Regions from separate parts of the Homo sapiens genome. Here region 2 is linked to region 1. The links come from fine-mapping of genetic effects on gene expression. A gene starts in region 1. The other region holds a variant in brackets. All regions are shown on one strand. Distances are between the middles of the regions.

Region 1 (5,484 bases):
AGTACTTACAAGGAAGGCCAAAATAGCACTTTCATATGAAACTGCTAAAAACAAAAAATCTTGTCAATCCCTCCCATACAGGCCTCACCTTGACCATGTGAGGTTTGACCATGGAAACTGCAGAGGTGTAACGTTCCATGACAGGTGGAAAGCCAACCTCCAGCTGGGCTTTCAAATGACCCTTACGGCTGGATACCACCAGAGACTTCTTACACCAGGGCACAAACTCACGATACTCCTGGACGTTGGACACCACCTCATACATCTCCTGCATTGAGTACCTAGGAGAAGAAGAATCACAGGCCAAGGAGCTGCCAGCTGGGTCAGGTTCCTCCTTGCTATAGGCCCCTAATTCATACCTTTGCCCACTAACCACGCACCTTCAGGAACTACAGATCCCAAATAAGCCTGGATGAATAACTTCCCAAAAGCAAACGTGTAAATCCTTATGATACTGTTACCTTATATTTTGCAGTTTACAGAATGCTTTTGCATTCATTGTTTATTTTGATTTTAAGAGGGACCATCTAGGGAGAACAGAGGCTGTCAGTTTTACTGGTGATCACACAAGGATCAGATCCCAGCTCTTAACAATTTTTTAACAATGTGGCCTTAGGTAAATTACCTGTGTCTCCATTTTCTCACCTGATTTATAGGTTTGTTGTGAGAATTAAATGAGAAATATCTATGTAAAACATCTAAGTCAAGCTGCTAGCATGTAGCAAGTGCTCGATAATTTAGCTATTATGCTCAAAATATACTAAAAAGGTTACGCTGCTAATTTACACATACTAGGTACCCATAAAAATTATTTTTAAATGGTCACCAGAAAAATACACCCTGTTTTTTGTTTTGTTTTTTGAGACAGTCTTGCTCTGTCGCCCAGGCTGGAGTGCAGTGGGGCAATCTCAGCTCACTGCAACCTCTGCCTCCCAGGTTCCAGCGATTATCCTGCCTCAGCCTCCCAAATAGCTGGGATTAAAGGCGCCCGCCACCGTGCCAGGCTGATTCTTGTGTGTGTGTTTTTTTTTAGTGGAGACAGGGTTTCACCATGTTGGCCAGGCTGGTCTCGAACTCCTGACCTAAAACGATCGGCCCGCCTCAGCCTCCCAAAGTCCTGGGATTACAGGCGTGAGCCACCGCACCCAGCTACGCCCTGTTGTCTTAAAGTATAGTCCAACCCTAGTCTCATTTCACTTAAGCACATGCACAGCAACCAAGAAGGGAGAAATTAAGGTCGGAAGAGTGGCAGGGGAGGACTGAGGATCAGTATTGTAGCTGGGGAGGGGGATGGCTAGGGATGAATCTTGCCCACCGATGATACCCTGACATTCTTGCCTGGACAGGGTTATTTGGAGGGAAAAGGGAGGTGCAAGGATGCAAGGCAGAGAATGCTTACCCCATGATTCTACGCTCCGAGTAAGCCTTTCGCTTGTTGGTGAAGGGAGCAGCAAATCCCATGAAGGAACGGCTCGAAGGTAAGCCAGCCTCAGCCGCCAAGATCTGGGCAGCCCGAGGCAAGAGGAGGCTGCAGGAGGTCAGAAACCTAAGGCCAAAGGAAAGAGGAGCCAACCGTATAGTTCTTCGTAATCCTCTATCATTTGTAGGTGAAGGAGAAGAAGAGTGCATCCCAGACGAAGGTCGTCCAAACAAGCTTTCCCCCCAGCACCTGCTGCAGCCCGCTAGGCTCTCTCTGGCCAGGGAGTCACGAGTGCAAAAGGTCGAGGGCAGCTAAGGACAGGGCTGGGGGCGGGGTGAGGGGGATGAGAAAAAGGGGTGTGTGGGAAGCGCCAGTTGCCTTTGACTGGGCCTACACTACTGCTGAAAGCTAAGACTTTAAGGAAGCATCACTGTCCCCGGGGACCCCAGGGCGCCCGCGAGGGCCAAGAAGAGGTTGGACACTCACCCCGAGAACTTCCCTTCTCGTACAACTTGCAAAAGCATTATCCAAAGCTCTACGTTAGCTCCCAGGGCATGATTGCTGCCAGTCCCCGCCGCGCCTGCATCCCAGTATAGCACCCCTCCACCGCGGAACCCCGGGGTTCGCAGCGACCCCCTGCCCTCAGCCGCGGTCACCTCCCTCTCACCTCATTGGTCGCGGCGGTGGCAGAGGGCCTGGGGGCGGGGCCGGTTGCGCGCCCGGGCTGAGCGAGAGCCGGCAGCAGCGCTCGGCTGCCGCGCGCGTCCCAGCTGGGACCCGCCGCGAGCCCGCCCAGGCCATGCGCGCGACCCTGCCTGGCCCTCTAAGTTCTGACGCGGGCTGCGCCCTCCTCACTCCAAAGGCGGAGCGGCAAGAGGCAGCGGCTGGGCTGGTTCGGGACCTCTGAGCGCAGGGGCGACGGGAGGCGGCAGCACCTCTCGCCTTGCTCCCGTCCAGGCTGCCGGGTAGGCTAGAACTGAAGCCGGGACCGCTGCTCCCGCAGATCTCGGTACCCCCACGTCACGCTGTTGCCATGGCTCGGGCCTGGGAGAGGAAGGAAGGAAGGAAGGGGACAACGCCGCCTGTCGGGAGATGTAGTTTCACACCTGTGGCGAGAAAGGGCACTGGGGTGTGCGTTTGAGAAGCTGCAAAGATGGTTCGGGGACTGAGGTCGCCTGTGGTCACAGGACCCGATAGGTAGGCACAGAGGCGACTTCGTGGGCGTGTCTACCGCAGATATCTGTAGATCCTCTGAACGTCGCTGTTAGAGCCTTAGGTTCTCTAGAGGGACATAGTGAATAGGATAAATGTATATATGAAAGGGAGTTTATTAAGAATTGCCTCACAGGATCACAAGGTAAAGTCTCACATTAGGCCGTCTGCAAGTTGAGGAGCAAGGAGGCCAGTGGTGGATCAGTCCAAGGCCCAAAACCTCAAAAGTAGGGAAGCCGGCAGTGCAGCCTTCAGTCTGTGGCCAAAGCCCCGAGAGCCCTTGGCAAACCACTGGTGTAAGTCCAAGAGTCCAAAAGCTGAAGAACTTGGAGTCTGATGTTCGAGGGCAGGAAGCATCCAGCATGAGAGAAAGACGAAGGCCGGAAGACTTCAGCAAGTCAGCTTCTTCCACCTACTTTTACTTTTATTTATTTATTTATTTATTTATTTATTTATTTATTTATTTGAGACGGAGTCTCGCTCTGTTGCCCAGACTGGAGTGCAGTGGCACGATCTCAGCTCACTGCAACCTTGGCCTCCCAGGTTCAAGCGATCCTCCTGCCTCACCACCCCCGCCCCGCCCCCCTCCCCAGTACCTGGGATTACAGGCATGCGCCACCATGCCCAGCTAATTTTTGTATTTTTAGTAGAGATGGGGTTTCGCCATGTTGGCCAGGCTGGTCTCGAACTCCTGACCTCAGGTGATCCACCCGTCTCGGCTTCCCAAAGTGCTGGGATTACAGGTGTTAGCCACCATGCCTAGCCCTGCCTACTTTTTCTAGCGTCGCTGGCAGCGGATTGGATGGTGCCCACCATTGAGACTGGGTCACTTCCTTCCAGTCCACTGACTTAAATGTTAATCTCCTTTGGCAACACCCTCACAGACACTCAGGAACAACACTTTGCCTCCTTCAATCCAATCAAGTTGACACTCAATCATCACAGAGCCTTTATCATATTCGGCCTTGTTTATAGTTAGAAGCACTGTTCATCTTTGTAGCTTCCACAAGTGGTTAGTGCTGTGTTCTACATTTTTGGGAAAGGAGATTAACATTCCAAGCTCTGGGCTAAGACTGCATAGTTTTTACCTTTAATATTTATAGAAAGAAGTCGAGGTAGGAAGAACCAGATATTCTTAGGACAGAGAACCATCTTTGTTTGAAAAGTGTGCGCTTGATGAAGAGTGAGACCTCATGGACAGAAACCCACGCAATTAAATACCACTATACTACTTTTCATGATTCAAGGAGAAAAAAAAAATGCTCTTGGCTAGGCATGGTGGCTCACGTCTGTAATCCCAGCACTTTGGGAGGCTGAGGCGGGCAGATCACTTGAGGTCAGGAGTTCAAGACCAGCCTGGCCAACATAGTGAGACCTTATCTCTACTAAAAATACAAAAATTAGCCAGGTATGGTGGCGGGCGCCTCTAATCCCAGCTACTCGGGAGGCTGAGGCAGGAGAATCGCTTGAACCCAGGAGGCGGAAGTTGGAGTGAGCTGAGATTGTGCCACTGCACTCCAGCCTGAGCAACAGAGCAAGACTCCATCTCAAAAAAAAAAAAAAAAAAAAAAGGAAAGAAAGAAAAGAAAAGAAAGCAAGCGAGCAAGAAAGAGAAAAAATGCTCTTGATAAAAGTCAGGTGGGCCAGGTGCGGTGGCTCATGCCTGTAATCTCAGCACTTTGGGAGGCCGAGGTGGGTGGATCACGAGGTCAGGAGATCGAGACCATCCTGGCTAACAGGGTGAAACTGCATCTCTACTAAAAATACAAAAAATTAGCCGGGCGTGGTGGTGGGTACCTGTAGTCCCAGCTACTCAGGAGGCCGAGGCAGGAGAATGGCATGAACCCGGGGAGCGGAGCTTGCAGTGAGCCAAGATCGCACCACTGCACTCCAGCCTGGGCAGCAGTGCAAGACTCCATCTCAAAAAAAAAAAAAAAAAAAAGTCAGGCAAACAAAAGAAAAAAAGGAAGGGAAGAAAGAAATCAACAATTAGAAAGAGATTGGGCTAAGTGCAGTGGCTCATGCCTGTAATCCCAGCACTTTGGGAGGCTGAGGTGGGAGGATCACTTGAGGCCAGGAGTTCAAGACCAGCCTGGGCAACATAGTGAGAACTTGTCTCTCCAAAAATAAAAAAGAAAAAAAAAAGAGAGACTAGAACTAGGTGGGTGCAAGAGAATGGTGGTGCCTGCTGTTGAGTTTTAAGAAATTCATGCTATTACAGTACAAGCCTTTCCTCTGCTTGCTTTCTAAATCTTCAGTCAAGCTCTCCACTTTCAGGAAATCTTTCCCTGAGAAGTGTTGTGTGTGGTGGTTATGCAGAGGGGCAGGGGATAAAGTAAATAAAGACTGTGTTGTAGCCAGGCATGGTGGCTCATATCTGTAATTGCAGCACTTTGGGAGGTGAAGGTTGGTGGATCACCCGAGCCCGGGAGTTTGAGACCAGCCTGGGCAATATGGTGAAACCTTGTCTCTACAAAAAATACAAAAAAATTTAGCCAGGCATGGTGGCACATGCCTGTAATCCCAGCTACTTGGGAGTCTGAGTTGGATCACCTGGGCCCAGGAGGTTGAGGCTGCAGTGAGCCGTGATTGCACCACTGCACTCCAGTCTGTGTGACGGGAGTGAGACCCTGTCTCAGAAAAACAAAAACAAAAACAAAAAAAGACTGTGTTGCAATTCTTGTCCAACTAATCTGGAAGAGACATCTGGTCTAGAAACAGGGTAGCTCTTGGGCCGGGCACGGTGGCTCACACCTGTAATCCCAGCACTTTGGGAGGCCAAGGCAGGCGGATCATGAGGTCAGGAGATCAAAACCATCCTGGCCAACGTGGCAAAAACCCATTTCTACAAA
Region 2 (5,258 bases), 20 kb before region 1:
CGGGACTCCGTCTCAAAAAAAAAAATTAATTAAATTAAATTTAAAAAAAAATCACCACAGCAAACAACCACCCTCAATTAAAAGGTCTCCTGCTGGGCTGATGTAGTCTCTGGGACATGGGGCCTCTCTAGTAGGGAATCTGTGGGACTCTAAACCATGGAATAGCTTGAACAAGGTTAACTCTGTAGAACAATAGTTTGAACTTATTAACATGTTTTCTTTGCCCACTTTTTTTGTGAAAGAAAGGGCAAAGTTACATCTTCAGTGCTGGGTTCAGCTTCCTGTTTGCCCATGTAGGGTGCAAGGGCTATGAAGGGCTGTTTGTGCTGCCTATTTTCTTGCTCAAGTGATCCTCAGTAAGATAGAGGAGACTCTTGAGGAAGTTAAGAAAAGGAGTTAAGGACAGCCCTGGTAACAAGTTGAGGTGTTCCTCGTTTGCTTTAGGAACATACTGGCTTGGTCTATGCTCTCTGAATTTACCTTTGGATTGATTCTTTTAAAAGTAATCTTTTCTGTCTGGGTGCAGTGGTGCATACCTGTAATCCCAGCACTTTGGGAGGCTGAAAATGGAGGATCACTTGAGCCCAGGATCACTCGAGGCCAGCCTGGGCAACAGAGCAAGACCCCATCTCTACAAAAAAAAATTTTTTTTTTTTTAATTAGCTGGGCTTGGTGATGTGCGCCTGTAATCCTGGCTACTCAGGAGGCTGAGGTGGAAGTATCACTTGAGCCCAGGAATTGAAGGCTACAGTGAGCTATTAACATGCCACTATACTCCAGCCTGGGGGAAAGAGTGACCTTTCTGAAGGGCCTCTTTTCATTCCTCCTCTCCGTCCCAACAGAAATAGGGGAACTAAATTTTAAAAATTCTAAAAATCTGGGAGGCCGAGGTAGGCGTATCACCAGATGTCAGGAGTTTGAGACCAGCCTGGACAACATGATGAAACTCTGTCTCTACTGAAAATACAAAAATTAGCCAAGCATGGTGGCGTGTGCCTATAATCCCAGCTACTCAGGAGGCTGAGGCATGAGAATCACTTGAACACGGGAGCCAGAGATCACGCCACTGCACTTCAGCCTGGGCGACAGAATGAGACTCCATCTCAAAAAAAAAAAAAAAAAAAAAAATTCTAAAAAGCCTTCAGCCCTATAGAACTCTCACCCCAGGCAGGTAGCAATTTTTTGCACAGAGAGCAGTGCAGTAGTTACTAGAAAAGGTGCCTCTGGTCTTTTGACAAAAGGACAGGTGCAGCCTTGCTCCAGGATTAGTTTATTTCTGTGTGTAATCTTCTAAGTCTGCAAAGCACTTTTATATCCACTGTAATTTAGTTATCATGGGACTATTCTGTGAGGTGTGTGGTGAGTATTAGAGCCATTTTATAGAGCAGGAAACTTAGGCTTAATTTGATTATCTCAATTTGTTTTCAAAATCTAGTACAGAAAAATTAATTTCCTTGCCTCAGGCCGTATTCCTAGTTAGTAACCTGATTGGTCATCTTATTTCAAAGTTGGTGTATGGCCTGGCATGGTGGCTTACGCCTGTAATCCCAGTGCTTTGAGAGGCCGAGGCAGGCAGATCACCTGAGGTCAGGAGTTTGAGACCAGCGTGGCCAACATGGTGAAACCCCGTCTCTACTAAAAATACAAAAAAAATTAGCCAAGCATGGTGGTGCATGCCTGTAATCCCAGCTACTCAGGAGGCTAAGGCAGGAGAATCACTTGAATCCAGAAGGCTGAGGTTGCGGTGAGCTGAGATTGTGCCATTGCACTCCAGTCTGGGCAACAAGAGTGAAACTGTCTCAAAAAAAATAAAGAAAAGGAAAAAGAAAACTCACAAAGTTGGTGTGGAACTTTTATTGCAACTTAACAATCTTCTCACAGATGTATTTTTTATTTGAGGAAAAAAGAAACTACCTGTACACACAGAAAAGCATAAACTAGCTAAACTATTTTCTCTCTCTCTCTTTTTTTTTTTTTTTTTTTTTTTTTTTTTTTGACAGAGTCTTGCTCATTTGCCCAGGCTGGAGTGCAGTGGCACAATCTTGGCTCACTGCAACCTCTGCCTCCAAGGTTTAAGCCATTCTCCCACCTCAGTCTCCTGAGTAGCTGGGATTACAGCTGCCTGCCCATACCACGCCTGGCTAATTTTTGTATTTTTAGTAGAGAAGGGTTTCACCATGTTGGCCAGGCTGGTCTTGAACTCCTGACCTCAGGTGATCCACCGCCTCAGCTTCCCAAAGTGCTGGGATTACAGGCATGAGCCACCGCGCCCAGCCAAACTAATTATTTTCTTTTGACACTCTTAGAAACTTTGCAAGTTTCCATTTCTGCTAATGAGTAGTCTTCTGTCAGCTTCTTTGTAGATAATCTTTGTGCTTTTTCCAGGAGGGTCAGAAGTACCGTTATGAAAGGCTGCCCTCTGCCTGTGGTCTTTCCCAGATTAGAGAGGTTGAAGTGCTGTCGAAAGACCAGGTGCAGGAGAGATCTTACCAGCAGTGTTAAGTAATTGCTCA[G/A]TTTCCTCATTTGTTTTCCTTGGGGTCACTCAAAAATATTGATAACCGCCCTGCTCTGGAGCCCAGATGATGGGAAAGAGTCTGTCTTCAAGGAATGCTAGTGAAGCTATGGATGAAAAAAAGCAGTTAAACCTCCTGCTGTCTCCATAGTGGTAACTCCTTCCAAACTGTTTGGGGACTTTTACAGCTTTCTTATGTCAAACTGCCCTAAGAGACTGAGATGAAGAGAGAGAGGTTGAGTCACTGTAATTCCTTCTTGTTAATATAAAAGAGGGAGGGGTAACAGTTACATAAGGTTCTCTTTTTTGCTTTGCAGAATGCATCTTGTCTTGTTCTTGCAGCCCGGCATGCCAGTGCTTCCTCCACGGTAAGGTTTGGAAAAGAAGACTAAGAATAAGAATCATTGCGGCCAGCCTGACCTTGGGGCAGAGGATTTGGCAACCACCTGGCCTCTTATTATCCTGAGTATTTCCTGGAAGTGTTTGTTACTATTGTTATTGTTATAGCTGCTATTATTATTATATTACTATTTAACAAATAATTTACTCAGTGGTATAGTGAGATGGGAATATCAATACATTTGCCTAATTCTTTTAAATGTTTTAAGTAGTGTAAAATATACATAACATAAAATTTACCATTTTAATCATTTTTAAGTATATGGTTTAGTGGCAGTAGATATGTTTACATTATTGTGCAACCATCCATCTCCAGAACTTTTGTCTGCCCAAACCGAGAAACTGTTCCCATTAAACATTAACTCCTCATTCCTTCTTCCCCCTGCCTAATTCTTTTACCCTCATTTGTGCAGAGTAGTTGACCAGACTTCCCTGGCAGATAAAGCCAGCTTCTAAAAAGCAAATTCTTGACACACCTACTTTGCAGGAAATCTAATAAACTTTTAGACCATTGCTTAGTCCTTCTACTTTTCTTTTTAGAATTTGAAAGACATATTGGCTGACCTGATACCTAAGGAGCAGGCCAGAATTAAGACTTTCAGGCAGCAACATGGCAAGACGGTGGTGGGCCAAATCACTGTGGACATGGTAAGGGTTGTGTGGCTTTGGCTGGGAAAAGTAGCTCTGTAATGTGCTTCAACAAAAGTAACATTCTCTCCACTGACTATTCAAAAGCATTCTGTCCCATAGGCCCTGTAGGACAGCTTTAGGATGACTTTTCCCCATCCTTCAGATTCTGAGCAGCTCAGCTGATAGTTTCTCAACAGTTTTTAGCTTATTGGTCTCCATCCCCTTCTCCTAGACTAGAACTCATTCTGTTTGTTTTGATTGGTTGGAATTTGAGGGTAGGGTATGTTGGGGAGTGGTTGAGTGGGCAGGAGAAAAAAAGTGAAATACAATAAGAAAAGGAATCAAACAGAGGGCGCAATGGCTCATGCCTATTATCCCAACATTTTGGGAGGCTGCAGTTGGAGAATCACTTGAGGCCAGGAGTTAACAACCAGCTTGATCAACAAAGGAAGATACAATCTCTATGAAAGAAAAATTTAAAAAATTAGCCAGAGATGGTGGGATGCCCCTGTAGTCCCAGCTACTGGGGAGGCAAAGGCAGGAGGATTGCTTGAGCCCAGGAGTTCAGGGCTGCAGTGAGCCATGATTATGCCACTGTAGTATAGCCTGGGCAACAGAGGGAGACCCTATCTCCAAAACAAACAAAAAGAAAGATAGTGATTTCTCAACTTAAAAAATTTCATTTCCAGGCCTGTTGCAGTGGCTCATGCCTGTAATCCCAGCACTTTGGGAGGCTGAGGCGGGTGGCTCATCTGAGGTCAGGAGTTCGAGACCAGCCTGGCCAACATGGTAAAACTCCGTCTCTACTAAAAAATATAAAAATTAGCTGGGCATGGTGGCAGGCAACTGTAATCCCAGCTACTCAGGAGCCTGAGGCAGGAGAATCACTTAAACCCAGGAGGCAGAGGTTGCAGTGAGCTGAGATTGCACCATTGCACTCCAGCCTGGGCAAGAGTGAGACTCCATCTGGGGGGAAAAAAAAAAAGATCAGCCTTGGCAACATGGCTGGCAAAACCCTGTTTTTTTTTTTTTTTTTGGGACGGAGTCTCACTGAGTCACCAGGCTGGAGTACAGTGACGTGATCTCGGCTCACTACAACCTCCGCCTCCCGGGTTCAAGCGATTCTTCTGCCTCAGCCTCCTGAGTAGCTGGGATTACAGGCCCGCACCACCACGCCCAGCTGATTTTTGTATTTTTAGTAGAGACAGGGTTTCACCATGTTGGCCAGGATGTCTCGATATCCTGACGTCGTGATCTGCCCGCCTTGGCCTCCCAAAGTGCTGGGATTACAGGCGTGAGCCACTGCACCCGGCCTAAACCCCATTTCTTTAAAAAAAAAAAAAAGAAATACAAAAATTAGCCAGACATGGTGGCACGTGCCTATAATCCCAGCTACTCAGGAGGCTGAAGTGGGTGGATCACCTGAGCCTGCAAGTCAAGGCTGCAGTAAGCCGTGATTGTGCCACTGTGCTGCAGCCTGAGTGACAGACTCTGTGAGAGGCTTAGTGATCTTCCCTCCTCCTCAGCCTCCCAAAGTGCTGGGATTACAGGCATGAGCCCCACCGTACCTGGCCACAAAGTTTGTTTTTTTTTTTCTTTTTTTTTTTTTTTTTTGAGATGGAGTTTTGCTCTTGTCACCCAGGCTGAAGTGCAATGGTGTGATCTTGGCTCACTGCAATCTCTGCCTTCTGGGTTCAAGCGATTCTCCTGCCTCAGC

The links. PIP is the estimated chance that this variant, and not a neighbour inherited with it, causes the effect.
Region 2: its variant is the best candidate, but not a certain one, in a credible set for the expression of COQ10A in nasal epithelium (TOPMed, PIP 0.87).

The regions. Positions count from the first base shown.
Region 1 is chr12:56,263,856-56,269,339 of GRCh38, reverse strand. COQ10A (coenzyme Q10A) reads right to left here and starts at 2,398. Exons shown (of 5, transcript NM_144576.4): 1 at 2,088-2,398; 2 at 1,400-1,546; 3 at 89-281. The coding sequence starts at 2,221. RefSeq lists enhancers at 1,616-1,685, 2,135-2,304, 1,828-2,327, 2,396-2,505, 5,152-5,321, a cis regulatory region at 2,219 and a silencer at 1,966-2,295.
Region 2 is chr12:56,284,217-56,289,474 of GRCh38, reverse strand. CS (citrate synthase) reads left to right here. Exons shown (of 11, transcript NM_004077.3): 2 at 2,830-2,880; 3 at 3,452-3,559. Among named protein-coding and RNA genes, the nearest start is that of CS, 13 kb to the left of the region's middle. The variant G/A (reference allele first, on the strand shown) is at 2,514.